Regions from separate parts of the Homo sapiens genome. Here all the other regions are linked to region 1. The links come from fine-mapping of genetic effects on gene expression. A gene starts in region 1. Each other region holds a variant in brackets. All regions are shown on one strand. Distances are between the middles of the regions.

Region 1 (5,000 bases):
ATGATCTCTGCTCACTGCAATCTCCACCTCCCAGGTTCAAGCAATTCCCATGCCTCAGCCACCTGAGTAGCTGGGACTACAGGTCCGCACCACCACACCCGGCTAATTTTTGTATTTTTAGTAGAGGAGGGGTTTCCATCATGTTGGCCAGGCTTGTCTTGAACCCCTGACCTCAAGTGATCTGCCTGCCTCGGTCTCCCAAAGTGCTGGGATTACAGGCGTGAGTCACCACGCCCAGGCTTCAAACCCAAATTTTTTTTTTTTTTTTTTTTTTGAGGCAGAGCTTCCCTCTTGTTGCCCTGTCTGGAGTGCAATGGCGCAATCTCGGCTCACTGCAACCTCTGCCTCCCGGTTTCAAGCGATTCTCCTGCCTCAGCCTCCCGAGTAGCTGGGATTACAGGCCTGCGCCACTAGACCCAGCTAATTTTGTATTTTTAGTAGAGAGGGGGGTTTCACCATGTTGGCCAGGCTGGTCTCAAACTCCTGACCTCGTGATCCGCCCACCTCGGTCTCCCAGAGTGCTGGGATTGCAGGCGTGAGCCACCGTGCCTGGCCAAACCCAACTTCTACTCTACCAAGCTACAGGACATTAAATTGTTAAGCATGGGAATGATGTGATGGATACAGTGTTTCAGTAAAGTTAACTTTTAAAAAGGCTGGAGGAAGATATGCTAGATTACGTTTTGGGGTAATTCAGTTATGAATGAGGGAAACTTGGGGCCAAAATGACAGAAATATGAATGGAAGAAATGAGGAAATGAGTCATTTCTTAACTTGCACATTACCTTGCACTTTGTAAGTTCATAAATTTAATAAGATAAACTTCAGTAAAGTCTTCTGCTGGGTATTCATCTAGAGCATTGTACTGTTCAATTGCACCATATAAAGCGAATCGCTCAACTAATTCCTTCATGACTCCCACAGCAGGAACTCCTTGTATTAATAAGTACTGAGATTCCAAATTGATTGTATATACCTGAAAGAAATGCAGAGTTATTAAACGTATTTCGCAAATAAGCCTAGGACGAATCTGCCTCTATTTTTTTTTAAAGAGAACTTTGAAAACAAGAAATAATCTGTTCAACCCAGTCAGCAAAAGAACACAAAATGAAATTTCTGCCATTCCTTCTGCATAAAGAATAACAGTCCATGTGAGAGGCTACCTAAGGCATATAACAGACTACCTTCAGTCGACATTTTTTTCCAGAAATTGAGTCGGTAGAAGTCACTGGGAACAATCACTCAACGAATATTCACTGAGTGCTTACCTGTGCCAAGTAGTACTGTAAACACAGAAGATCCAATGACTAAAACCAAGGCCTATTCTCGTGGAGTTGATGTTCTAATACTTGACCAAAGGCGTCGTGAGAATCTTTGGTAACTGACCGAGGGTTCTTCACGCCAGCTCTAACGAGAGACAGATCTGACGGAAGCCTTGTCGTGCCTTTATTTCCGTAGGCTGGTCATATGGCGCTAGCACTCACATAAAGCTACCGAGGAGAGCGAATGAAACCAAAATCACTTTACCTTCACAGCACGAGGCCGTCGTCCCTCTCGATATTTGGCCCGTGTGTCGCATACCGCCCTCTGGACGTGGTGATCAAATAAACTCCCTAGCTCCCCGCCGCTCGACGCCATCTTGCCTACTTTGATCCTCGCAGGGAGGACAACATCCGCCCTACTGAGCTCCCTTTTATCCAATAAGAGAGCGGGATGAGTTAAGGAGTGCCAGGATTGGCTGGAGAATCGACAGCGTCGGCCATCGTTTCCTGCGTGCGAAGATTTGATGAACGAGGTGCCGCCCCCGAGCGGCTCGGCGGAGAGGCGCGGTGGGTGACAGAAGCTTTCTTGTCCCACCCACTACAGGCTTACGGCAGGATGCGCAGCGGGGAGAGGGGGCGGGGCCGCAGGGGGCGGGGCCGATCGATCTCCTCCGGCTCCGACGTCCTCGGCCTGCCGGGTCCCGGGTCCTTTGCGGCGCTAGGGTGGGCGAACCCAGAGCGACGCTCCGGGACGATGTGGGGCAGCGATCGCCTGGCGGGTGCTGGGGGAGGCGGGGCGGCAGTGACTGTGGCCTTCACCAACGCTCGCGACTGCTTCCTCCACCTGCCGCGGCGTCTCGTGGCCCAGCTGCATCTGCTGCAGGTAACCTGCCGGCCCCGAGCCACCTGATCTTCAGCCTGGGGTCGGACGAGGCCGAAGCCTCTCAGGGACGCGGCGGGACACCGGCTGCCACCCGGGCGCCGCCGAAGCGCGCAGAGATCAGGGTCCCTCGACGGCAGGGCCCTTCTGGGTAGTCTCTGGATCCCACAAGTCCAGTGCAGCCCTGGGCTCGTCTTATCCCAGGTCTTTTCACTTGGTGAAACTGAACCTAGAAACGTCCTAATATTCTACCACTGTTTTTATAAATATTCCTTATTCCAGGCTGGAAAAGCTCCTGAGAAGTGGTTTGTTTTTATTATTTTAAAAGGTGTTTTCCTTGCCAGCCATTTCCAGTTAACCTGCGCTGCTGCCGTCCGGGCCGCGAGAGCGGGACGCAGAGTTGTTGGCGGAGCCCCTGTCGGTTCCCGGGGACTAAGCACCGCGTCCCATGAGCGGGAAAGGTTAATACAATGATGGTTCTGCCCTGCGTCGCTGACGCGGAACACAGCTGTAGTGTGTTAGGAACACATAACGTAGTTAAGATCACTTGAAGCTCTGCGATCAGTCGCCCTTCTGGACGTTGTGGTTAGGATGTTTCACAGTTCTAACCACTGGTGGAGATACAGCGTCCATATTTTCATAATTAAAAATAGAGGCACATGGTCTCACGAGTTTGAGTGTACTTATGGGGGCAAAAGGACGGCGTATTTGAAATCCTCATAAATCCTGGATGCATGGTACCCACCAGTGGCTAATCTATGCAATGAATAGAGTTTGCAATAATTTCAAGCATCCCTTCTTTCCACTTGAGTTACTTCCCCATACCTAGGGGAAGATATTTTTGGTCCACTGAAAACATGAGTTCAGCAGAATCCTCCTATCATCGTCGTTATTATTTTTTACCACTAAGTAGACAATCTTTTGGTTTTTGATGGGCTTTATGGCTAGAGACAAATCAGTCACTGTCACCAAGTTCCAGGTAGAAGTTGGTTCAGTGCTCTGTCAGCTTCGATGGGATTTTTCAACATGTTTTCAAATCTGCACTTAATAGTAGGAATGCTTTCTTACAGTAACTCTAATTTGATCCTAAGATGTAGTTGTTACCTTACATTCATCACTGTTTAAGAATTTAGTGGTCTTGATCTTTGTTTTAAATTTTGAGCCTTCGGGAAGTACTTATAAGAATTAATTCATGCATATCTTTTTGAAATGTAAATGTCTTTAGCCCTGGAACAAATTGCTGTTTCTGTTCAGCCCATATTAGCAGAATAGGTCAACTTTACTTTCTAATTATCAATGTAATAAGTTTATTACTTTATAGATTCCATAAATCTATACATTTATTCCTCGATGAATTATATAAATTTATAGAATTTATGTTTTATAGAAAATTTGGAAAGCATGGAAAATTATTAACAAGAAAATAAGTTACCCATAATCCCAGAACTTAGAGGTGACTAATGTTGACAGTTTGGATCAAATCTTCCAGTTTTGTTTCTAATCTTTATTTTTAACATAAATGAGGTCCTGTATACACACGTACAGTTTTGTGTCCTGGTGTTTTTATTTAATGTTATTATGAGTGTTTTATTTTGTTAAAAGGTCATCATTTTAAGTTGTTAATTAGTATTCTAGCACAAATTTGCCATAATTTATTTAATTGTTTACTATGATTGACCATTTAGATTGTACTTAATTTTTAGGCATTAGAAGTGATAAACTATATTTTAATCAGACGTTGAAAATAACACATCTTTGTTTAGAAAACATCATTTTATTTCTGGTTGTCTAGGATAGATTCCCAGAATTCTTGGGTTAGAGGCCATAGATAATTATGAAAGCAGAAAGATTCACAAGTTGGGAGTTAATACTTGAATTACTTTATTTGGGGTGAAGCATTGAGTGCATAATACAGATCATGCAGTAATGGGAAGAAGGGTTGGAACAATGGTTTTCTGGCCTATGTCAGACTTACCTTGAAGCTTTTAAGAATACAGATGTTCTGATCAACCCTCAGACCTATTAAATCAGACCTAAAATCTTAGGGAATAGGCTTTAGGCATCTCTAATTTTAAAAAATTTATTCAGGCTACTTGGATGCACAAAAGAGTTGAGACCTACTGTCCTAGAATCATAGAATTTTAATGACGATAGAGACCTTAAGCATCTAGGTCGTTTCTGTACTTTTACATGTAAGGAAACTGGCATTCCTAGGCCAGTACCATTGCCATGCAGCTAATTTGCCCTCTTGTCTATAGCTCACTCTGCATCACCCAACCTACCGTTCTCACTGTTTCTTCTATAACCAATCTCCTTCCCACTTCTGTTCTCTTACTCATGCCATTCTTCCCTCAGTCATTTTTCTTCCTTCCATACAAATTCCATGTCTTTAAAAAGGAATAATCCTACCTCCTCCACATAGCTTTCCAATTCTCTGTTGCCCACATTTGTCTCCCTTTCAATACTTCTCTGTTGTGTTATGTGACACATCACATTTGATATACTCTGTACTGTGTTTCAAGTATTGTATTCTCTTGTTTACTCAAGTCATTATTTCAGGACTGACTACCCAGTAGATGCTTTAAGTCAGGATTTCTCAACCTTGGCACTGTTGACATTTTGAGCTGGATAATTTTTTGTTTTGGGGGCTCTCCTGTACATTTTAAGATGTTTAACAGCACCCTTGGCCTCTATCCAGTAGACGCCTGTACTGCCTCCCCCTATCTGTGACAACCAAAAAGGTCTTCAGACATTGTCAGATGTCTACTGAAGGACAAAATCACCTCTGGTTGAGAACCACCGCTTCAACTAAGTTATCTTCTCTGTACTCAGAACTTGATGTGATTGCAGCAGGGGGA
Region 2 (6,459 bases), 95 kb after region 1:
ACTATGTTGCCCAGGCTGGTCTCAAACTCCTGGACTCAAGCAATCAATCCTCCCACCTTGGCCTCCAAAAACATTGAAATTACAGTTGTAAGTCATTGTGCCTGCCTTTTCTCATCTTCTTACTGGGTTGCCCATCTTTTCTTTGTTAAAGTTCTTCTTACAGTATAGTAAATATCACAAATATTACACTTAAAATTTAGCATTTTGGCCGGGTGCGGTGGCTCACATCTGTAATCCCTGCACTTTGGGAGGCCAAGGAGGGAGGATCACGAGATCAGGAGATCGAGACTATCTTGGCTAACACGGTGAAACCCTGTCTCTACTAAAAATACCAAAAGAAAAAGTTAGCTGGGCGTGGTGGTGGGCGCCTGTAGTCCCAGCTACTCGGAAGGCTGAGGCAGGAGAATGGCATGAACCCGGGAGGTGGAGCTTGCAGTGAACCGAGATTGCACCACTGCACTCCAGCCTGGGCGACAGAGGGAGACTGTCTCAAAAAAAAAATCTTTTTTGCATTTAATATTTGTAATGGTATCTAAAGTGCTCCTGTACCCCAAATCTGCCAAGCAGTTGTGTTTTTTTGAGACAGAGTTTTGCTCTTGTTGCCCATGCGGGGATTACAGGCATAAGCTACCGTGCCCGGCCTAGTAGTAGTTTCTTAAGAACTGTGTTCAGACTGGAAGGCACTGTGGCAAAGCCACTGCCATCTCATATCTGGATTTCTGGTCTCTGCCTCAGTTTGGCTTAGTCTGGCCCATTCTCCACACTACCTAGAGTAACCTTTCTTTCTAGGAGATCTCCATGGGTCCCTGCTGGGAAACCTTCCTTGATTCCCCATTGTATTAGTTTCCTGTTGCTGCTGTTGCAAATTGCCACAAACTGAATGACTTAAAACAACACACATTTATTATCTTACAGTTCTGGAGGTCATAAGCCTAAAACCAATCTCACTAGGCTAAAATCCAGGTTCTGGCAGGGCTGGTTCCTTCCTGGAGGCTGTAGAGGAAAAGCCATTTCTTTGCCTTTTCCAACTTCTAGAGGCCACCTGCGTTCCTTGGCTCATGGCCCCCTTCTTCCATCTTCAAAGACAACAATTGTATCACTCTGACCTCTACTTCTGTTGTCACATCTCCTTCTCTGACTCTGTTCCTCCTGCCACCTTGTTATACCTATAATCATAATAATCTTTGTGATTTGATTGGGCCAACCCAGATAATCTAGGATAATCTCCCCATCCCAAAGTCCTTAACTTAATTACACCTGCAATGTTCCTTTTGACATGCAAGATAACATAGACACAGGTTCCAAAAACTAGGACGTGGACATCACTGGGGAACTGCCATTCTGCCAATCACACCCATGGCCTTCAGGATGAAGTCCAGAGTCCTTAACTTGGCTTGCCAGCCTCTCAGAGGCATGCCCACTACTTCTCTGTGTAACCTCATTCCACTCTCCCCTTCAAACTCCCTGCTCCAGGTACGTTTCTGGAACTTGCCCTCCCTGCCTTCTCCAGTCCTGGTCCAGGCTGGTTCCTTGTCTGGAAAACCTCTCCCCACCTCTTCACTTGACTAATCCCTACTCGCTTCCAGCCATGGCCTAACTTTCAGTTTCTCTGGAAGCTTTTGACAACCTCTTCTACTCCCTGCAAGTTCCTCCAGATTTCCTTCAGGGGTCTCAGGACTTCCTCCAATGTTCCTGGTCTGCTTATATTGCCTTTTTTTTTTTTTTTTTTTTTTGAGATGGAGTCTCGCTCTGTTTCCCAGGCTGGAGTGCAGTGGCACGATCTTGGCTCACTGCAAGCTCTGCCTCCAAGGTTCAAGTGATTCTCCTGCCTCAGCTTCCCTAGTAGCTGGGATTACAGGAGCCTGCCACCATGCCTGGCTGATTTTTGTATTTTTAGTAGAGACGGAGTTTCACCATGTTGGCCCGGCTGGTCTTGAATTCCCAACCTCAGGCGATCCGCCCGCCTCGGCCTCCCAAAGTGTTGGGATTACAGGCAAGAGCCACCGCACCCGACCTATGTTGCCTTTTATATGATTGCTTGATTATACTCTCTTCCAAAATATAAGCTCTTTGAGGGCAGAGACAGCAAGGGCAGCTTCATGCTTGGCACTCATTAAGTTTTTGCTGAATAAATTCTATTAAAAAATTAATTTCATAATACAATCAAATTATTTTACTCTATGGGTTTCATCTTAAATGTTATCATTCATTTAACAAATATTTACTAAGCACCAACTTGGTAAGTACTGAGCCAAGCCAGTTACAATTAAGAAGAAATCGCCTGATGATTCTGAGGATGCTAAGGTTGTAGAGGTGTAATCATAAGGACATGAAAAACAATTCTTCCCCTCTAGGAAATTGGACTTGGAGGTCAGCGAACCAATAGACTTTGGTTCTGGAGGTCATCAACATCTGATTCAGGAAGCAGCAGATAAAAGCATCCAGTCCCAATCTGGTGAGCGCTACACACCTTCATCTTCAGCTGGGCCACAAGAAACTCGGAAGAAGCCACGGCCAAAGGACACCGAGCAGTTGAATACCTGTGTGATAGAAATTTCAGATGACGTCACCCCAGGTGATAACAATGCAACTTTAGGCAATCCTTTCTCAGACGCATCTGTCCGCAGAGGTGAGAATAAAGAAATTACCTTTTTAGAAGAGAAGAGCATATGTTCTCTTAAAATGTTTCCACAGAGAAGATTGTCAGATATAATTTTTTTTTTAGTTTTTCTGAGTCATGCTTTCTCATAAAATATGATGTAGGACTGCTATAACTGACTGCTTCCAAGTTGTCCAGGGCATTCAGAAACTCATAAGAAACGTATGGTGAATAACTTTTTTTTTTAAGGAAATATGAATTAATCATGGATCATAAAATGTTTTTACTTGTATACAAGGTGATACCACAATATTGGCTTAAGTTTTAAAGTGTCCACTCTGCCACCCTGAGGCCTTCTGAGGGCCTGAACAACTTGCAGGTGGACTGTGAGCTTTGAATCCTATTGGTCTCCCTGTGGCCCTCACCACTCCTTTCCTGTGGCTGGAAAGCTGCCTTTTGAAGCTCTAGCCTTTGAGGTAGGAGAAGGAAAAGGCAAACAGCCAAAGGCAAAGTAGAGCCAAGAGAGGGCTGCAGGTATCCTGAGAGTTGACCAAACCAGTCTTCTTTTCAGAGGCATTTCTAGAAACCACACCCAGAGTTTTGAATGCCATGTCATTGACCCACCTGTATCACATGGCCACCTCTATTTGGAGTTGTTCAGCTGAGCCCATTGCCACCCTTAACAAGATCTGGGTCAAATAGTGAGGAAGCCAGGGATATTGGATATCACTAAGCACCTGGCTGTCTCTGAGATCAATATCAGGCCTACACAGGGTGTTGTGCAAGGGCAATGCTATTGCGTTTCGTCCTTACAACAACCCTACAAATACAGAAGTTGTATTGCCATTTTACAGGTGAGAAAATGAGGCTTAAGGAGTCTAATCGAATTAGTCTTTCAGGTCTAATTGAAAAATATGTAGAGCCTCCTTGCCAGTGTAAGAGTCAGTTGTTTATATCTGCCTCTCCTGGAGGGCAGAGGCTGGCCTTTGTCCAATTAAAAAAAATATAGTATATGAAAATATGAAAGTGTTGTGGAGAAAAGGAAAAGTATAGCAGGGTAATGGATTGAGTTATGGGGGCTGTAATTTTTTAAAGCAGTATTATGGAGATATAATTTGCAAATCATAAAAATCCCTTTTCAGTGTACAATTCACTGGTATTTTGTGTATTTAGAGTTGATAACCATCAACATGATCAATTTTCGAACATTTTCGTCACCTCAAACAGAAACCCATACCCAGACTAGGCGCAGTGGCTCATGCCTGTAATCCCAGAACTTTGGGAGTTCGAGGCAGGCAGATCACTTGAGGTCAGGAGTTCAAAACCAACCTGGGCAGCATGGTGAAACACCATCTTTACTAAAGGAAAAAAAAAAAAAGAAAAGAAACCCATACCCATTGGCAGTTACTCCCATCATCCCTCCCCCAAACCCCTGCCAACTACTAATCTACTTTCAGACCTCTCTATGAATCTATTTTGAACATTTCATGTAAATGGAATCATACAACATGTGGTCTTTTGTGATTTCCTTCTTTCACTTAATGTTTTTGAGGTTCTCCCATGTTGTAGCACGTGTCAGTATTTCATTCCTTTTATGAATGAGCCGTATACAATTCCATTGCCTGAATAGAAAACATTTGTTTATACATTTATCAGTTGACAGACAATTAGATTGTTTCTACCTTTAGGTTATTTTGAATAATGCTGCAATCAACATTCATA[T/C]TGAAGTTTTTGTGTAGACATATGTTTTCATTTCTCTTGGGTAGATACCCAGGAATTGCTGAACCATAGGGTAACTCTGTGTTTCACATTTTGATGAACTGCCAAACTTTTCCAAAGTGGCTGCACCATTTTACATTCCAAGCAGCAATGTATGAGGGCTCCTGTTTCTCTGCATCCTTGTCAACACTTGTTATTGTCTGTCTTTTTGGTTATAGCCATTCTAGTGTTCGTGAAGTGTTATCTCATTGTACTTTTGACTTGCATTTCATTAGCGAATTTTCTCTTATACTTATTGGTCATTCATATGTCTTCTTTGGAGGAATGTCTATTCAAATCCTTTGCCCACTTAAAGAAAGCAGCAACCATTTTATTATCTCTCATAATTCTGTGGGTTGACTCAGTTGGTCAACTCTTGTGCTGCTCTTGAATTGGGAGCTCTCATTCACTTACAATGAGATGGTAGCTGAGGCTGCTATGGCCATTATGACTGCATGTTATGGCTTGCAGTTGGTGTTAGTTGGGGATCCAAATTCATCCTTTTGTAGGTGTATATCCAGTCTTCCCAGCACCATTTGTCAAAACGATTATTCTTTCTTCATTGAATTTTCCTGGCACATTTGTTAAAAATCAATTGACCGTAAATATAAAGGTTTGTTTCTGGACTGTCACTTTGATTCCATTGATCTCTGTGTCTGTTCTTGTGAGCCTGGGCCACATTTAATATTTGTTCCCCCACAGTCCCTGCTACATAGCAGATGCCAAATTAATGTGAGCTAAATGAATATTTTAATGTAGGCAGCATACACTTGGTAATATATGTTCTGGTATTTTTATTAAGACAGTTTAGACCCACTGCTTTGTAGTCATACTTCCCTATGCATAGAAACTTCCCAGCAAAAGGACAGTCGACGATCCTGTAAGTTAATTTTAAGCAGCATTACTTCTTTTTTTTCTTTGAAATTGGGATAAAGCCACACAAAAGGCAAATTGCCATTGCCAGTGCCATATTCAGAGGGCCCAGGACATAAGCAGAAAGAGGTGCCCACGTGCTGTGCCTTGTATGTTGGCCTGTCATTCTCTTGGAACTCTTTGGTCTCATGTACAGTTCGCCAAGTTATCTATTTCTGCATCAGAATGCAGAAGAGAAGAGAGTTTCTACAGGCGGGTAGGCTGGAGAGAAAAGTGGCAGAAAAGCTCTACAAACCCTCTGCAGCCCAAGTCCATCTCCAGGGAGACGCCCCCCCGTCTCCCACAGTCCTGAGGTGCTGCTGCTCTCCGATGCAGGGAGGTAGTGTCGCTGGATCCCTAATGATGGGCCTGTGACATGGTGAGGATTTCAAATCATGTTTGATCCTAAGGAGGATGGGATGTGCATGACAAGGAATTAAATTCCTGAGTTTGTCTTGAAAATTCTGGGCTTTGGCCAGGCATGGTGGCTCATGCCTACAATCCCAGCATTTTGGGAGGCTGAGGCAGGTGGATCACCTGAGATCAGGAGTTTGAGACCAGCCTGGGCAACATGGTGAAACCCCATCTTTACTTAAAAAAAAAAAAAATTAGCTAGGAGTGGTGGTAATCTTAGCTATTCAGGAGGCTGAGGCATGAGAATCGCTTGAACCCAGGAGGTAGAGGTTGCAGTGAGCTGAAATTGTGTCGTCACTCCACTCAGTCTGGGCAACACGGTGAGACTCTGTTCCAAAAAAAAAAAAAAAAAAAAGAAAGAAAGAAAAAAAAGAAAAAAGAGAAAATTCTGGAGCTCCCATGAATAAACCATCAGATCCCCAATAAAACACCTCTATCCAACCATCTGGATTGAGTGTGCTCTAAAAGTTCTATAGAGCTGCATTTTTGTTGTTATTCTATTTGCTGACTGTAAACTAGCACTGCCTTTCCCATCCTGAAAAAAGAGCAAAAAAAAAAAAATTCCTTTCATTAAATATCAAAAATACGTCATTACATTTATGTTGTTACTTTTGACTATTGTGTCATAAAAATAGTGTTTCTGTCTCCTCAGCTTTCATTATCAAAGTGTTCTTCCTCCTGTCAGTTCAGTTGTTGCTCACTGTGGTAATTACCAGTGTGTTTATTTTCTGGTAAGTCTTTATGACTGATGTAGAATTAAGTGTTAGGTTGTTCAC
Region 3 (8,126 bases), 80 kb before region 1:
TTTGGAAGAAAGCTTGGGGCCATTTCAGCCCCCTGTATTCTCATGATTTTCTCTCAGGAAGCACACACTGTGAATGGCAGACTTTTCATTTAGCCCCAGGTGACTTACTAAAAATAGTTGAAAATTATTCACCTAAGAATAGAATCTCAGCATTGTGTTAAATAAAAATGAAAGCTTTAGAAGGCATGAGATGTTCCTATCTTAAATAAAGCATGTTTCTTTTCTATAGAGAAATGTATAGTTTGACTCTCCAGAATGTACTATCCATCTTGATGAGAAAACTCTTAAATAGTACCAAACATTTTGAACTTTAAATTATGTATTTAAAGTGAGTGTTTAAGAAACTGTAGCTGCTTCTTTTACAAGTGGTGCCTATTAAAGTCAGTAATGGCCATTATTGTTCCATTGTGGAAATTAAATTATGTAAGCTTCCTAATATCATAAACATATTAAAATTCTTCTAAAATATTGCTTTTCTTTTAAGTGACAATTTGACTATTCTTATGATAAGCACATGAGAGTGTCTTACATTTTCCAAAAGCAGGCTTTAATTGCATAGTTGAGTCTAGGAAAAAATAATGTTAAAAGTGAATATGCCACCATAATTACTTAATTATGTTAGTATAGAAACTACAGAATATTTACCCTGGAAAGAAAATATTGGAATGTTATTATAAACTCTTAGATATTTATATAATTCAAAAGAATGCATGTTTCACATTGTGACAGATAAAGATGTATGATTTCTAAGGCTTTAAAAATTATTCATAAAACAGTGGGCAATAGATAAAGGAAATTCTGGAGAAAATGAAGGTATTTAAAGGGTAGTTTCAAAGCTATATATATTTTGAAGGATATATTCTTTATGAACAAATATATTGTAAAAATTTATACTAAGGTCATCTGGTAACTGTGGGATTAATATGGTCGAAAACAAATGTTATGGAGAAGCTGTCCCAAGCAAACTAAATTACCTGTACTTTTTTCCCATTTCAAGGGAAGAGGCAACCACATGAAGCAATACTTCTTACACATGCCTAAGAACGTTCATTGAAAAAATAAATTTTTAAAAGGCATGTGTTTCCTATGCCACCAATACTTTTGAAAAATTGTGAACCTTACCCAAAACCATTTATCATGTCCATTAAGTATATTTGGGTATATAATTAGGAAGATATTTACATGTTCCATCTCCACAGTGGAAAAACTTATTGAGGCTACCAAAGTGTGCCAAGAAATGTAAGTCCTTAGAGTAATTAGAAATGCTGTTTTCCTCAAAAGCATGAGAAACTAGCATTTTCATTTCTTATTTACTCCCTTTCTATATCAATGCAATTCACAACCCAATTTTAATACATCCCTATATCTCAAGCATTTCTATCTTGTACTTTTTCAGAAAATAAACCAAAAATAATCCTTTGGTCTCTCTATCTTCTGACCTTTGTAAGCAACAGAAATGTAAAAACAGAAGGGGTCCAATTTTTACACGTTTTTTTCTCAAGTAGCCTTTCTGGGGATTTTTATTTTCTTAATGAAGTGCCAATCAGCTTTTCAAAATGTTTTCTATTTCTCAGCATTTCCAGGAAGTGATAACGTTTAGCTAAATGAGTAGAAGTGGACTTCCTTCAACATATTGTTACCTTGTCTAGCCTTAGGAAGAAAACAAGAGCCACCTGAAAATAAATACAGGCTCTTTTCGAGCATCTGCTGAAATACTGTTACAGCAATTTGAAGTTGATGTGGTAGGAAAGGAAGGTGACTTTTCTTGCAAAAGTCTTTCTAAACATTCACACTGTCCTAAGAGATGAGCTTTCTTGTTTTATTCCGGTATATTCCACAAGGTGGCACTTTTAGAGAAAAACAAATCTGATGAAGACTAAAGAGGTACTTCTAAAAGAGATTTCATTCTAACTTTATTTTTCTGCGCATATTTAACTCTTTCCTAGCACTTGTTTTTTGGGATGATTAATAGTCTCTATAATGTTCTGTAACTTCAATATTTTACTTGTTACCTAGGTTCTGAACAATTGTCTGCAAATAAATTGTTCTTAAGGATGGATAATACACCCATTTTGATCATTTAAGTAAAGAAAGCCTAGTCATTCATTCAGTCAAGAAAAAATTTTTGAAGTACCCAGTTACCTTACTTTTCTAGATTAAAACAGGCTTAGTTACTAAAAAGGCAGTCCTCATCTGTGAACAGGATAGTTTCGTTAGAAGTATAAAACTCCTTTAGTGGCCCCAGTTAAAACACACATACCCTCTCTGCTGCTTTCAAATTCCCTAGCATGGTGGCCTTTCAACATTGATTAAATTTTAAAATCCTAATTTAAAGATCAGGTGAGCAAAATGAGTAGCACATCAGTAATTCAGTAGACAAAACTTTTGTCTGAAAAATTGCTGTATTGAAACAGAGCCCTAAAATACCAAAAGACCAGGTAATTTTAACATTTGTGGAATCACAAATGTAAATTCATAAGAAGCTCTAATTAAAAAAAAAAAGTCTGAAGTATATGAGCATAACAACTTAGGAGTGTGTCTACATACTTAACTTTTGAAGTTTTTTGGCAACTTTATATACTTTTTTTAAATTTACAAGTCTACTTAAAGACTTCTTATACCCCAAATGATTAAGTTAATTTTAGAGGTCACCTTTCTCACAGCAGTGTCACTTGAAATTTAGTAGGGAAGGATATTGCAGTATTTTTCAGTTTCCTTAGCACAGCACCACAGAAAGCAGCTTATTCCTTTTGAGTGGCAGACACTCGACGGTGCCTGCCCAACTTTCCTCCTGAGTGGCAAGCAGATGAGTCTCAGTAATTCATACTGAACCAAAATGCCACATACACTAGGGGCAGTCAGAAACTGGCTGAGAAATCCCCCGCCTCATTCGCCCCTCTGCTCCCAGGAACTAGAGTCCAGTTAAAGCCCCTATGCGAAAGGCCGAATTCCACCCCAGGGTTTGTTATAACAGTGGCCAGTCTGAACCCCATTTGCTCGTGCTCAAAACTTGATTCCCACTTGAAAGCCTTCCGGGCGCGCTGCCTCGTTGCCCCGCCCCTTTGGCAGGAGAGAGGCAGTGGGCGAGGCCGGGCTGGGGCCCCGCCTCCCACTCACCTGCCGGTGCCTGAAATTATGTGCGGCCCCGCGGGCTGCTTTCCGAGGTCAGAGTGCCCTGCTGCTGTCTCAGAGGCATCTGTTCTGCAAATCTTAGGAAGAAAAATGTCCCTAGTAGCAAACGGGTGTCTTCTGTGCATAAATAAGTACAACACAATTCTCCGAAAGTTCGGGTAAAAAGAGATGCGGTAGCAGCTGCCCTGTGTGAAGCTGTCTACCCCGCATCTCTCAGGCGCTAAGCTCAGTTTTTGTTTTTGTTTTTGTTTTTTTAAAGAAAAGATGTATAATTGCAGGAATTTTTTTTTATTTTTTTATTTTCCATCATTCTATATATGTGATGGTGAAAGATATGCCTGGAAAAGTTTTGTTTTGAAAAGTTTATTTTCTGCTTCGTCTTCAGTTGGCAAAAGCTCTCAATTCTTTAGCTTCCAGTTTCTTTTCTCTCTTTTTCTTTGTTAGGTAATTAAAGGTATGTAAACAAATTATCTCATGTAGCAGGGGATTTTCATGTTGAGAGGAATCTTCCGTGTGAGTTGTTTGGTCACACAAATAACCCTTTCTCAATTTTAGGAGTTTGGATTGTCAAATGTAGGTTTTTCTCAAAGGGGGCATATAACTACATATTGACTGCCAAGAACTATGACTGTAGCACTAATCAGCACACATAGAGCCACACAATTATTTAATTTCTAACTCTCTGTGGTCCCTAGAAAAATTCCGTTGATGTGCTTAGGTTAAAGTTCTGAAGATACCCGTTGTACCCTTACTTGAAAGTTTCTAATCTTAAGTTTTATGAAATGCAATAATATGTATCAGCTAGCAATATTTCTGTGATCACCAACAACTCTCAGTTTGATCTTAAAGTCTGAATAATAAAACAAATCCCAGCAGTAATACATTTCTTAAACCTCACAGTGCATGATATATCTTTTCATTCTGATCCTGTGTTTGCAAAAATATACACATGTATATCATAGTTCCTCACTTTTTATTCATTTGTTTTCCTATTACCTGTAGTAAATATATTAGTTAGTACATGGAATTTATAGCATCAGCTACCCCCAGGAACAGCACCTGACAGGCGGGGGATTTTTTTTCAAGTTGTTCTACATTTGCATAAATTATTTCTATTATTATTCATGTATGTTATTTATTTCTGAATCACACTAGTCCTGTGAAAGTACAACTGAAGGCAGAAAGTGTTAGGATTTTGCATCTAATGTTCATTATCATGGTATTGATGGACCTAAGAAAATAAAAATTAGACTAAGCCCCCAAATAAGCTGCATGCATTTGTAACATGATTAGTAGATTTGAATATATAGATGTAGTATTTTGGGTATCTAGGTGTTTTATCATTATGTAAAGGAATTAAAGTAAAGGACTTTGTAGTTGTTTTTATTAAATATGCATATAGTAGAGTGCAAAAATATAGCAAAAATAAAAACTAAAGGTAGAAAAGCATTTTAGATATGCCTTAATTTAGAAACTGTGCCAGGTGGCCCTCGGAATAGATGCCAGGCAGAGACCAGTGCCTGGGTGGTGCCTCCTCTTGTCTGCCCTCATGAAGAAGCTTCCCTCACGTGATGTAGTGCCCTCGTAGGTGTCATGTGGAGTAGTGGGAACAGGCAGTACTGTTGAGAGGAGAGCAGTGTGAGAGTTTTTCTGTAGAAGCAGAACTGTCAGCTTGTGCCTTGAGGCTTCCAGAACGTGTCAGATGGAGAAGTCCAAGTTTCCATGCTTCAGGCAACTTAGCTGTGTACAGAAGCAATCCAGTGTGGTAATAAAAAGCAAG[G/A]ATTGCCTGTATAATTTATTATAAAATAAAAGGGATTTTAACAACCAACAATTCCCAACACCTCAAAAGCTTGTTGCATTTTTTGGTATTTGAGGTTTTTATCTGAAGGTTAAAGGGCAAGTGTTTGGTATAGAAGAGCAGTATGTGTTAAGAAAAGAAAAATATTGGTTCACGTAGAGTGCAAATTAGAACTAGAAAGTTTTATACGATTATCATTTTGAGATGTGTTAAAGTAGGTTTTCACTGTAAAATGTATTAGTGTTTCTGCATTGCCATAGGGCCTGGTTAAAACTTTCTCTTAGGTTTCAGGAAGACTGTCACATACAGTAAGCTTTTTTCCTTCTGACTTATAATAGAAAATGTTTTGAAAGTAAAAAAAAAAAATCTAATTTGGAAATTTGACTTGTTAGTTTCTGTGTTTGAAATCATGGTTCTAGAAATGTAGAAATTGTGTATATCAGATACTCATCTAGGCTGTGTGAACCAGCCCAAGATGACCAACATCCCCACACCTCTACATCTCTGTCCCCTGTATCTCTTCCTTTCTACCACTAAAGTGTTCCCTGCTACCATCCTGGCTTGTCCACATGGTGCTCTCCATCTTCCTCCACATCATGGACCACAGGTGTGCCTGTCTAGGCCTGGCCACCACTCCCAACTTGACCTAGCCACATTCATCTAGAGATGGTTCCTGATGCTGGGCACAGACTGTGCTCATGGCACCCATTAGAAATGCCTCTAGCATCTTTGTATGCATCTTGATTTTTAAACCAAGTCATTGTACAGAGCATTCAGTTTTGGCTGTGGTACCAAGAGAAAAACTAATCAAGAATATAAACCACATTCCAGGCTGCTGTTTTCTCTCCATCTACAGGCCACACTTTTACTGTATTTCTTCATACTTGAAATTCATTCTGCTATTTTCATATCAGGGTACAGACTTATAAGGGTGCATGTTCCTTAAAGGTGCATAATTATTCTTATTCCGTTTGCTTATATTGCTACAGAATGCTCTGTTTTGGTGCTTTGAGTTCTGCAGACCCAAGAAGCAGTGTGGAAATTCACTGCCTGGGACACAGTCTTATAAGAATGTTGGCAGGTGACTTTGTATCAGATGTTGCTTCTCTTTTCTCTGTACACAGATTGAGAGTTACCACAGTGGCCTGTCGGGTCCACCCTGTGGGTGCAGCACAGCTCTCTGAAAGCAAGAACCTTCCTACCTATTCTAACGTTTTTGCCCTCTAAGAAAAATGGCCTCAGGTATGGTATAGACATAGCAAGAGGGGAAGGGCTGTCTCACTCTAGCAACCATCCCTCCATTACACACAGAAAGCCCTCTTGAAGCAAAAGAAGAAGAAAGAAAGAAAGCTTATCTCTAAGGCTACTGTCTTCAGAATGCTCTGAGCTGAATGCTCTTGCTCCTTTCCCAAGAGGCAGATGAAAATATAGCCAGTTTATCTATACCCTTCCTATCTGAGGAGGAGAATAGAAAAGTAGGGTAAATATGTAACGTAAAATATGTCATTCAAGGACCACCAAAACTTTAAGTACCCTATCATTAAAAATCTGGTTTTAAAAGTAGCTCAAGTAAGGGATGCTTTGTGACCCAGGGTTTCTGAAGTCAGATAGCCATTCTTACCTGCCCCTTACTCTGACTTATTGGGAAAGGGAGAACTGCAGTGGTGTTTCTGTTGCAGTGGCAAAGGTAACATGTCAGAAAATTCAGAGGGTTGCATACCAATAATCCTTTGGAAACTGGATGTCTTACTGGGTGCTAGAATGAAAATGTAGGTATTTATTGTCAGATGATGAAGTTCATTGTTTTTTTCAAAATTGGTGTTGAAATATCACTGTCCAATGTGTTCACTTATGTGAAAGCTAAATTGAATGAGGCAAAAAGAGCAAATAGTTTGTATATTTGTAATACCTTTTGTATTTCTTACAATAAAAATATTGGTAGCAAATAAAAATAATAAAAACAATAACTTTAAACTGCTTTCTGGAGATGAATTACTCTCCTGGCTATTTTCTTTTTTACTTTAATGTAAAATGAGTATAACTGTAGTGAGTAAAATTCATTAAATTCCAAGTTTTAGCAGAATGTGTTTTTTTTCTTTCTTTTTTTTTTTTTTTTTTTTTTTTTGGTGCTTCTTATTTGCAACCTGGCCATGTGGTAGAAAGAATGTGTTTTAAAGTTTTACTTTAAGAGATTCCTTTTCAGGCTTCTAGTGTTTAAAAAGTAAATAACAGCTAAGTGAGCTTAGAACTCATTCAACAATTGGCCGGGCACGGTGGCTCATGCCTTTAATCCCAGTACTTTGGGAGGCCGAGGCAGGCAGATCACCAGAGGTCAGGAGTTCAAGACCAGGCTGGCCAACGTGGTGAAACCCTGTGTCTACTAAAAATACATGAAAACTAGCCGGGCATGGTGGCACGCGCCTGTAATCCCAGCTACTCAGGAGACTGAGGCAGGAGAATCACTTGAACCTGGGAAGTGGAGGTTGCAGTGACCTAAGATGGCGCCACTGCACTCCTGCCTAAGCAACAGAGCAAGACTCCATCTCAAAAAAAAAAAAGAACTCATTCAACAATCATGCGTTGCTTAATGACTGAGATACAGTCTGAGAGATGCATTGTTAGGGGATTTCATCGTTGTGAGAACATCATAGAGTGTACTTACACAAATACACACCTAGACTAGATGGTGTAGCCTAAGCCTCCTAGGCTACAAACCTGTATAGTATTGAATACCGTAGGCAATTGTAACACATTGTTAAGTATTTGTGTATCTAAACATAGAAAAGGTACAGTCAAAATATGGTATAAAAGATAAAAAATGGTACACCTGCAAAGGGCACTTACACTGAATGGAGCTTTCAGGACTGGAAGTTTCTCAGGATAAGTCAGTGAGTGGTGAGTGAATGTGAAGGCCTAGGACATTACACTACTGTAGACTTTACTGTACACTTAGGTCACACTAAATTTATTTTAAATTTTTTCTTTAATAATAAATTAACCTTGGCTTACTGTAAATTTTTTAGTTTATAAACTTTAATTTTTTTAACTTTTTGACTTTTTTTTTTTTTTTTTGAGACAGGGTCTCACTCTGTCACCTACGCTGGAGTACAGTGGCACAATCATGGCTCACTGCAGCCTCCACCTCCCAGGCTCAACCTATCCTCCCACTTCAGTCCCCTACCCCCAAGTAGCTGGG
Region 4 (8,126 bases), 42 kb before region 1:
TATGCGACCTTTTGTGTCTTTCAGCTGGCATAGTATTTTCAAATTTCATCCAAGTTGTAGCATGTATCAGTACTTTGGTTTTTTGTATGGCTAAGTAATATTCCGTGTGTGTGTGTGGCGGATTTCGCCATCCATTCATTTGTTGATGGACATTTGGTTTTGTTTCTACCATTTGGCTATTGTAATGATGCTATGGACATTTATAAACACAAGTTTTTGTATGGATGCATGTTTTCATTTCTCTTGGGTATATGCCTAGGAGTGGTTTACATAACAATTTGCAAATAAAAATTAATTTTAAATTTTTTTTAATTAATTTTAAAAACTAACCAGGCGTGATGGCATATGCCTGTAGTCCTAGCTACTTGGGAGACTGAGCCCACAAGGTCATGCCACTACACTTTATCCTGGGAGAGAGAGTGAGACCCTGCATCTAAATTTAAAAAAAAATAAAATTTAATTTAAAAAGACACTTAAAAAAGAAACTGTAATGACCAATTCCAAGAATTCAAGGATAATTTAATATAATTTGCCATATTAACTGATCAAGGAAAGAAACCATATGATTATTTCAGTAGTTGTCAGAAGGATGTGATATAATTCAGCATTAATTCCTGATTTTCAGAACGATTATAAAATAAGTGGTTACCCTCATATTTAAAAAAAAAAAGTATGTGTGAAATTAAATCTGGTAACATAGAAACATGAAATATTAAAACTGAACTGCAATTTTTAAGTACTTAAAATATTAGATACAGAGTAATATACACACATGTAATCAACAAATATTAATATATTTACCAGTTAGAATTAATAAATGATTTACATTGGCTTCAAGTCTTGTTTTATGTATTAAAAAAAAAAAAGAAGAAAAAAGACTGGGCACAATGGCTTATGCTTATAATCCGAACACTTTGGGAGGCTGAGGCAGGAGGATCACTTAAGGCCAGGAGTTCGAGACCAGCCTGGGCAACATAGTGAGAGGCCATCTCTACACAAAGAAAACAAATTAGCCAGGTGTGGTAGTCCTAGTTTCTCCCGAGACTGAAGTGGGAGGATCACTTAAGCCCAGAAATTGGAGGTTACAGTGAGTTATGATCATGCCAGTGCACTCCAGCTTGGATGACAGAGTAAGACCCCCATCTCTAAAAAAAAAAAAAAAAAAAAGTCCCCAAACTATCATTTTTTCCTTTGATATAGCTGATCCTGAAACTAGTGTATGTCTTTCCTATCCACATTTATATACTTTTATTATATTAGTATGTGTTCATAAATAACAGAATATTGAGTTTCTTTTTTTTTTAATTAGTTATACCTACTGGAATGGGAAGAATACTGTGTATTATCAAAATGGTAACATTGTGTTTCCTTCTGAAACTTGTTTCTTTTCATTCAGCATTACTGTTGACATCTATCCTTACTGATACTTTCAAGTTTGTTTCTTTTGCTTATGGTATTCTACTAATTAATCCACCACAATTATTTCTCCGTTCTCCTTTTTATGAACATCTAGATTGTTTTAATTTTTCAGTAATACAAATAGTGCTGCTGTGGATATTTCTTACCCATTTCTTCTTTTCCACAGTTACTGTTTTTTGTTTTTTTGTTTTCCGAGATGGAGTTTCGCTCTGTTGCCCAGGCTGGAGTGCAGTGGTGCAATCTTGGCTCACTGCAACCTCCACTTCCCGGGTTCAAGCAATTCTCCTGCCTCAGCCTCCTGAATAGCTGGGATTACAGGCATGCGCCACCACGCCCAGCTACTTTTTTGTATTTTCAGTAGAGACAGGGTTTCACCATGTTGGTCAGGCTGTTCTGGAACTCTTGACCACGTGATCCGCCCACCTCAGCCTCCCAAAGTGCTGGGATTACAGGTGTGAGCCACCGCGCCCAGCCAGTTTACTGTTAATTTTCTAAAGGATACTTTGGACTGTAATTTCTAAGTTCTAGGATGTGCATACACATTCAACTTACGAACATTTTGCTTGCCCAAGTGCTTGTTATTTTGCATTCTTGCTAGTGTATAAAAATACCCTTGTTTCACATACTTGTCAACCCAGGGAGATGTCATTATTGCAAATTTAATGTATACAAATGGTTGAGCTTCTTAACCTGCTTATTAGCCATTCATATTTCATTTTCTTTGCATTGCTTTTCATAGTCTTTGCCCATTTTTCTGTTGGAAAGAAACAACATTTTCTGGTCCATGGCGTCTCTTTACTTTGTTTTTGTGTCTATTATAATTATATAAAGGCTTTAATTTTAAGTCACATAATCATTGTTTTTAGCCCCTTTATTATTTAAAATTATTCTGAAAGTGCTGATAATAAAATACTCAATTAGAAAATACAGTGGTAGAAAATATCCTCTTTATAGTAGTAACCAAAAAATCTGCAAGAAAATTTTAAAGAAGTAAACAGTACTTATTTGAAGAAAACTATACAAGTCTATTCAGAGACATATATGAAGATTGAATAAATGGAGAGTCATAACGTGTTCCTGGGTATAACTTGCCGTACTGGATATTAAAACATTATAAGAATGTTTTAATTAACACAGTGCAGTACTAGTACAGGAATAGACAAAACAATGGAACAGTGTAGAGTCCAGGTGAAAATTCGAGAATCTGTGGAATGTAATAATATGATAAAGATGGCATTTCTTGGAACAAAATGACTAATCATTTGGAAAATATAAAGCTGGCCACTACATAAAGCCAAATACATCCCAGACAGCTCAGAGATTTCAATGTATGAAAATGCAACTAGAGAAAGGGTGACTATTACAGTACTGGGGTGGGGAAGGCTTATGCCTCAAAACTCAAACTTTTGACCATATATTTCAAATTCTGAATGGCAAAAACTGATTACAAAAATTAAACTGTGAACAAAGTTTAACTACAATGAACAGACTAAGAAAAACTTCTAAGAATGTATAACACAAAAAACTAATGATCTTTAATAAGGAAAAAAGAATACCACACATACACAGACAAATTGGCAAATATACGTTTAGGCAATTCTAAAAGAAAACACAAACTGTATTCTCTGATACGATTGATAAAGAGCCTGAGAGGGAGGCTTCTTGGTAAAGTGTGATTCATAAATGGATGACAGACAGTTTTGGACATGGTGGGAGAAAAAGATGATCATTTGTGTGAAGGCTACGTTGGTCTTTGATTTAGTCATCGTTATTAAAGAGTTTGCACTCACATACACTTCATTCTATTTCAACTTTGTTTTTAATAGCAAAGAACCCATATTTCTTTCCTCCAGAAGGAGATGGGTTAAGTAAATTCTGGCATTTTAGTGAATGTTAAATGCAGCCATAAATGATGTAGTTGGCATGGAAAGATACTATTGGGTGAGAAGAGCAGGTTCCAGACAGCAGGTATTTATGTAATATTGTAAACATACACTTAGAAAGATGTTTCCAAAAATCTTAATGGTGTTTAATTTCTGATAGTGGGATTTGAGTCCATTTTCTTACAGTTAACATTTAACATTTTGGCCAAAATAACAATGCTGTTTGCAGAAACAAAAGGAAGTCTGCTATAATCTAGCCCATAGAGAGATCATCACTGTTAGTTTATTTTCTGCATTTTTGTTTGTCTTCAAAATTAGACTCACGCTATATAAAAAGTTGTACATTCTGAATTTTTTATGTAAGATTAGGTGGTGAACATTTTTTCCATTGGGTAGTTTTGTTTTTGTTATGAACTACTTCAGATATACAGAACAGTTCCATGAAAAATAATAAAATGATAACCAGCATATCCACTATGCAGCTCGAATAAATCTTAACATTTTGTTACACTTGCTTTGGGTGTTGTCATAATTTTTTTTTATTTCTTCAAATATATATTTAAGCCCCTAAGTACTACTCCCAATCTCAGTCCCCTCTCCTTCTCCAGAGTTACTCACTTTTTCAACATTAAAAATACTTAGAGGTTAAGATTTTTTTAAACACATATTTACATTTAACACTTTGCGCTAAAGGAATTACTACATAGAGATTCTTTTAGATCACTGCAAATAATCACCCATTTATTTTCTTTTCTGCAGTACTAGGCCTGTCTAATCCAATCCTGGGTAGAAAC[A/G]AAAGAATTAGAATACAAAGGAACCAAATCTTACATTATCTGCATATTTCATATGACTGTATAAAGTCTATTCTGTATAATTTAAGAAAATAAGATGGATATTACATCTAAATGGATATGTAGTTATTTCTTTTCAATATATTTAATATTGCTTTAGTGGAATTAAAGACTTAAATCCTGGTAAATGTTACACTTTTTAGACATTCTAAAATAAAAATGGGTAATTATAATAATTAGAAGAATTAAATAGAACTTAGAAACATAAAATGTGTGTGACAAAGTATGTCTGAGTCAAGATAAATGTATTTATTTTTCATAGGATATTAAAGGACTCAGCAAAAAGAGAAAGATGTATTCTGAAGATAAACCTTTATCATCTGAGTCCTTGTCAGAATCAGAGTATATTGAGGAGGTAAGTATATGATCAAATCCATTTTCTCTATTTTAAAATGCTTAGTTATTGATTTAATAAATATGACTTAGAAAAAGAAATACTTCATATTTAATTTATTCACCTTTCTAGTATGAAAAAACAAAATGAAAGTTATTTCATTTCAGAATGAGTTTTGCTTTTTTCCAGAAGATAATTATCTATTATTTTTTATAATTAACTGTATTTCCACATACCTTTCTAATCTGAGATATTTTTAGTCTTCTAATATTTCCTTTTTATTGTGCTACCATTCTTGTTACATGAAAGAAGCTGTGTAACATACAGCATGTTGAAACCAAACATTCTCTTACATTGTTAAAATAGAACATTGCATATACTATCTCAGTTTAGTTGATATTTAGCTGTGTTTTGAGCTACTTTTCGGGGAGTAGAAAGGTGATGAAGTGGAGAAGAAATGTTGGCAGGAAACATATCATATTACTTCGTTGTGAGAACTAAATGAGATGATAAATTACGAAAGGCATTGCATCATACCTGAGACAGAGTAAATGGTGGCTAAAGTTTGCATAATTCTTGGTGTTACAGTAAAATCTAAGCCAAGTTTGCCCTAGAATCATTTATTTTTAAAACTGTAGCTTTCTTTAGCGATCAACATACTTAACCCCCAATAGTGTAATCTAAAAGAGTTGAGGATCTTACCCTTGCTTACAAGGGGTGGTAGCAGATTGCAACAAGAGCTGGTTTTCATGATTCTTTAATCGTTTCCGTATTAGCCTCCTCCTGTATCAGTCCTGCCCAGCTCTATCTCTGTCTACTATATTCCTCATCTCCCCATTCCCTGAGTCTTGCATTTTTGTTTGTTTGTGCCTCTCTCCTTTCTGATTTCATCGTTCTTGGTCTGCAACAGTGGCACTTGGTCCTTTAAGACCTATTGCCCCCATTTTATAGCAATGTCTTGTAATTGCTCCTGAAATGAAAGCTAATGCTGAGGCAAGAAGGTTGCTTGAGCCCTGGAGTTTGAGGCTGCAGTGCACTCTGATCCCACCTGTGAATAGCCACTGCACTCTAGCCCAGGTGACATAGCAAGACCCCATCTCTAAAAAAATAATAATGATAATGTGCAATTTTATGAAATTGTATTTCAGTGTAAATGCCTGAATGTGATTAACACCAGGCCAGGCGCAGTGGCTCGTGCTTATAATCCCAGCACTTTGGGAGGCTGAGGCGGGTGGATCACCTGAGATCAGGAGTTCCAGACCAGCCTGGCCAACATGGTGAAACTCCATCTCTGCTAAAAAAAAAAAAAAAAAAAAAAATTAGCCAGGCGTGGTGGCAGGTGCCTGTAATCCCAGCTACTCGGGAGGCTGAGGCAGGAGAATCACTTGAACCCGGGAGGCGGAGGTTGCAGTGAGCCAAGATTGTGCCATCACACTCCAGCCTGGGCAACAAGAGTGAAACTCCATCTCAATCAATCAGTCAATGCTGTAACACCAGAAGACATAGAATCTTAAGAAAAAACAAAATGCAGGCTGTAGCAGGTGTATATTACATACGCCCTTCAAAAACCATACAGTGGCATTACAGTATATCTTAAAATCCTGCACAAGAGGCTTGGTGCAGTGGCTCAGCCTCTTGTGGCACCTGTAATCTCAGCAATTTGGGAGGCTATGGCAGGAGAATCAGTTCAGACCAGGAGTTACGACCAGCTTGGGCAACATAGCGAAACCCTATCTCTTTAAAAAAATAAAAAAATTTTATTTTTTAAAATTTAGTTTCTGGGCCAGGTGTGGTGGTTCACGCCTGTATCCCAGCACTTTGGGAGGCCAAGGCAGATGGATCACCTGAGGTCGGGAGTTAAAGACCAGCCTGGCCAGCATGGCAAAACCCTGTCTCTACTAAAAATACAAAAATTAGCCAGACATGGTGGCACAGACCCGCAATCCCAGCTACTCAGGAGGCTGAGGCAGGAGAATCGCTTGAACCGGAAAGGCAGAGGCTGCAGTGAGCCGAGATCACACCACTGCACTCCATCCTGGGCAACAGAGCGAGACTTTGTCAAAAAAAAAAAAATTTTAGTTTCTGTATTGTAAACAGATTCATCACATGAATGTTTAGCAGGCTATTCAAAAGTCGTGGAGGATGTACAGGGCTGTTCAGGACATGGCGTGACAGCATCCCTCATCTCTGCCTGGCTAAATATAGATGTAGTACATCTGCTGTCACCCTTAGTCATTGTAATAACAAGAATAACAATAAAAATATTGTTTCCTAGGTGCTCGGTAAAGAGAGCTAGTGAGTTAGTGATCTCTGTTGTGAGCTTGTGATCTCTAGTGCTTAATGTGTTATATTTTTTTTAGTCCTCATGCTTCCTTTTATTGTTAATTGCATTTTTATGTATTTGTCATGTATTTAATGTCGTAGTCACTTAGCAGCAAAACCACGCAATTCAACATTAGGCAAATTTATAAATATTGTTTTGTATGTAATGTATTAGTGTTGTATTATGTTTGTCTGCTACATGGTAGCAAGTTTAATATGAAATATCTCACATTTGGACTTAACATGTAATACGAAAGTTTATGAAAGCTTTGACAACTTTCAGCTTATTTATTCTTATTTTTTTAGAGGCAGGTTCTTGCTCTATCGCCCAGGCTGGAGGGCAATGGTGCAGTCATAGATCACTGCAGCCTGGAACTCCTGGGCTCAAGTGATTTTCCACTTCACCCTTCCAAGTAGCTAGGACTACAGTCACATGCCACCACACCCCACTAATTTTTAACAAAAATTTTTTTGTAGAGGTGAAGTCTTAACTAGGTTACCCAGGCTGGTCTTGAACTCCTGGCCTCAAGCAATTCTCCCACCTTGGCCTATCAAAGCGCTGGGATCACAGGCACCAGCCGCTGCCCCCGGCCTCAGTTTAATTTAAATCCAGTGTACCACACTCAAAAAGATTGAAATAAAATATAAATGGGATGATAATTCTTACTTAGAATTTTAACCTATTGGCTTTATACTAACTACACTGAATATAGAGCTACCATTTGTTGAGCACCATAGAGTGAGAGAAATACCTGCTGTATTTTAGGCACTTCCCCTTGAGGGTGGATATTATCTACATTTTACAGATGTTGAGAGTAAGATAGGATTCAGACCTTGGAATCTATCTCATTTCAGAGCTGATGTTTTGTTTGCCTGTTTTGAGACAAGGTGTCAGTCTGTCGCCCAGGCTGGAGTGCAGTGGTGCAAACAGGGCTCACTGCAGCCTCAACCTCCTGGGCTCAAGTGATCCTCCCATCTCAACCTTCCAGTTAGCTGGGACTACAGGCACATGCCACTGTGCCCAGCTATTTTTTCTTTTTCTTTTTTTTTTTTCTTGGTAGAGATGGGGGAGCTCTCACTATGTTGCTCAGGCTGGCCTTGAACTCCTGGGCTCAAGCAAGCCTCCTGCCTTGGCCTCCCAAAATGCTGAGATTACAGGCAAGAGCAACCACACTCGGCCTAAAGCTGATGTTTTTTTCCACTGTACCACATTTTTTTAGGTGCTGAAAGGGAATATAAGAGAAGCTGTCTAGAGATTTTACGTCTTAATTGTCCTTCCTTTATGTTTTTTATTGAAACCTCATTGAGATATAACAG

Direction of the effects. Positions count from the first base shown, and alleles are read on the strand shown. Sizes are in standard deviations (SD) of each study's normalised expression. Not every link is listed here.
With allele C in place of T in region 2, the expression in hypothalamus of the gene that starts at base 1,932 in region 1 is higher (large effect, 0.81 SD a copy in GTEx).

Evidence for each region. PIP is the estimated chance that this variant, and not a neighbour inherited with it, causes the effect.
Region 2: its variant is the best candidate, but not a certain one, in a credible set for the expression of PEX1 in hypothalamus (GTEx, PIP 0.84).
Region 3: its variant is the best candidate, but not a certain one, in a credible set for the expression of PEX1 in whole blood (INTERVAL, PIP 0.67).
Region 4: its variant is the best candidate, but not a certain one, in a credible set for the expression of PEX1 in whole blood (INTERVAL, PIP 0.69).

What each region holds. Positions count from the first base shown.
Region 1 is chr7:92,525,452-92,530,451 of GRCh38, reverse strand. It overlaps PEX1 (peroxisomal biogenesis factor 1), which reads left to right and starts at 1,932. Exons shown (of 24, transcript NM_000466.3): 1 at 1,932-2,145. The coding sequence starts at 2,017. It overlaps RBM48 (RNA binding motif protein 48), which reads right to left and starts at 1,657. Exons shown (of 5, transcript NM_032120.4): 1 at 1,528-1,657; 2 at 786-976. The coding sequence starts at 1,638. RefSeq lists enhancers at 1,354-1,733, 2,334-2,513 and a silencer at 1,874-2,103.
Region 2 is chr7:92,429,325-92,435,783 of GRCh38, reverse strand. It overlaps the pseudogene TMBIM7P. Among named protein-coding and RNA genes, the nearest start is that of GATAD1, 15 kb to the left of the region's middle. The variant T/C (reference allele first, on the strand shown) is at 4,322.
Region 3 is chr7:92,603,808-92,611,933 of GRCh38, reverse strand. CDK6 (cyclin dependent kinase 6) reads left to right here. Exons shown (of 8, transcript NM_001145306.2): 8 at 1-7,013. Among named protein-coding and RNA genes, the nearest start is that of FAM133B, 17 kb to the right of the region's middle. The variant G/A (reference allele first, on the strand shown) is at 4,913.
Region 4 is chr7:92,566,205-92,574,330 of GRCh38, reverse strand. It overlaps FAM133B (family with sequence similarity 133 member B), which reads left to right. Exons shown (of 11, transcript NM_152789.4): 9 at 4,416-4,508. Among named protein-coding and RNA genes, the nearest start is that of FAM133B, 20 kb to the left of the region's middle. The variant A/G (reference allele first, on the strand shown) is at 4,097.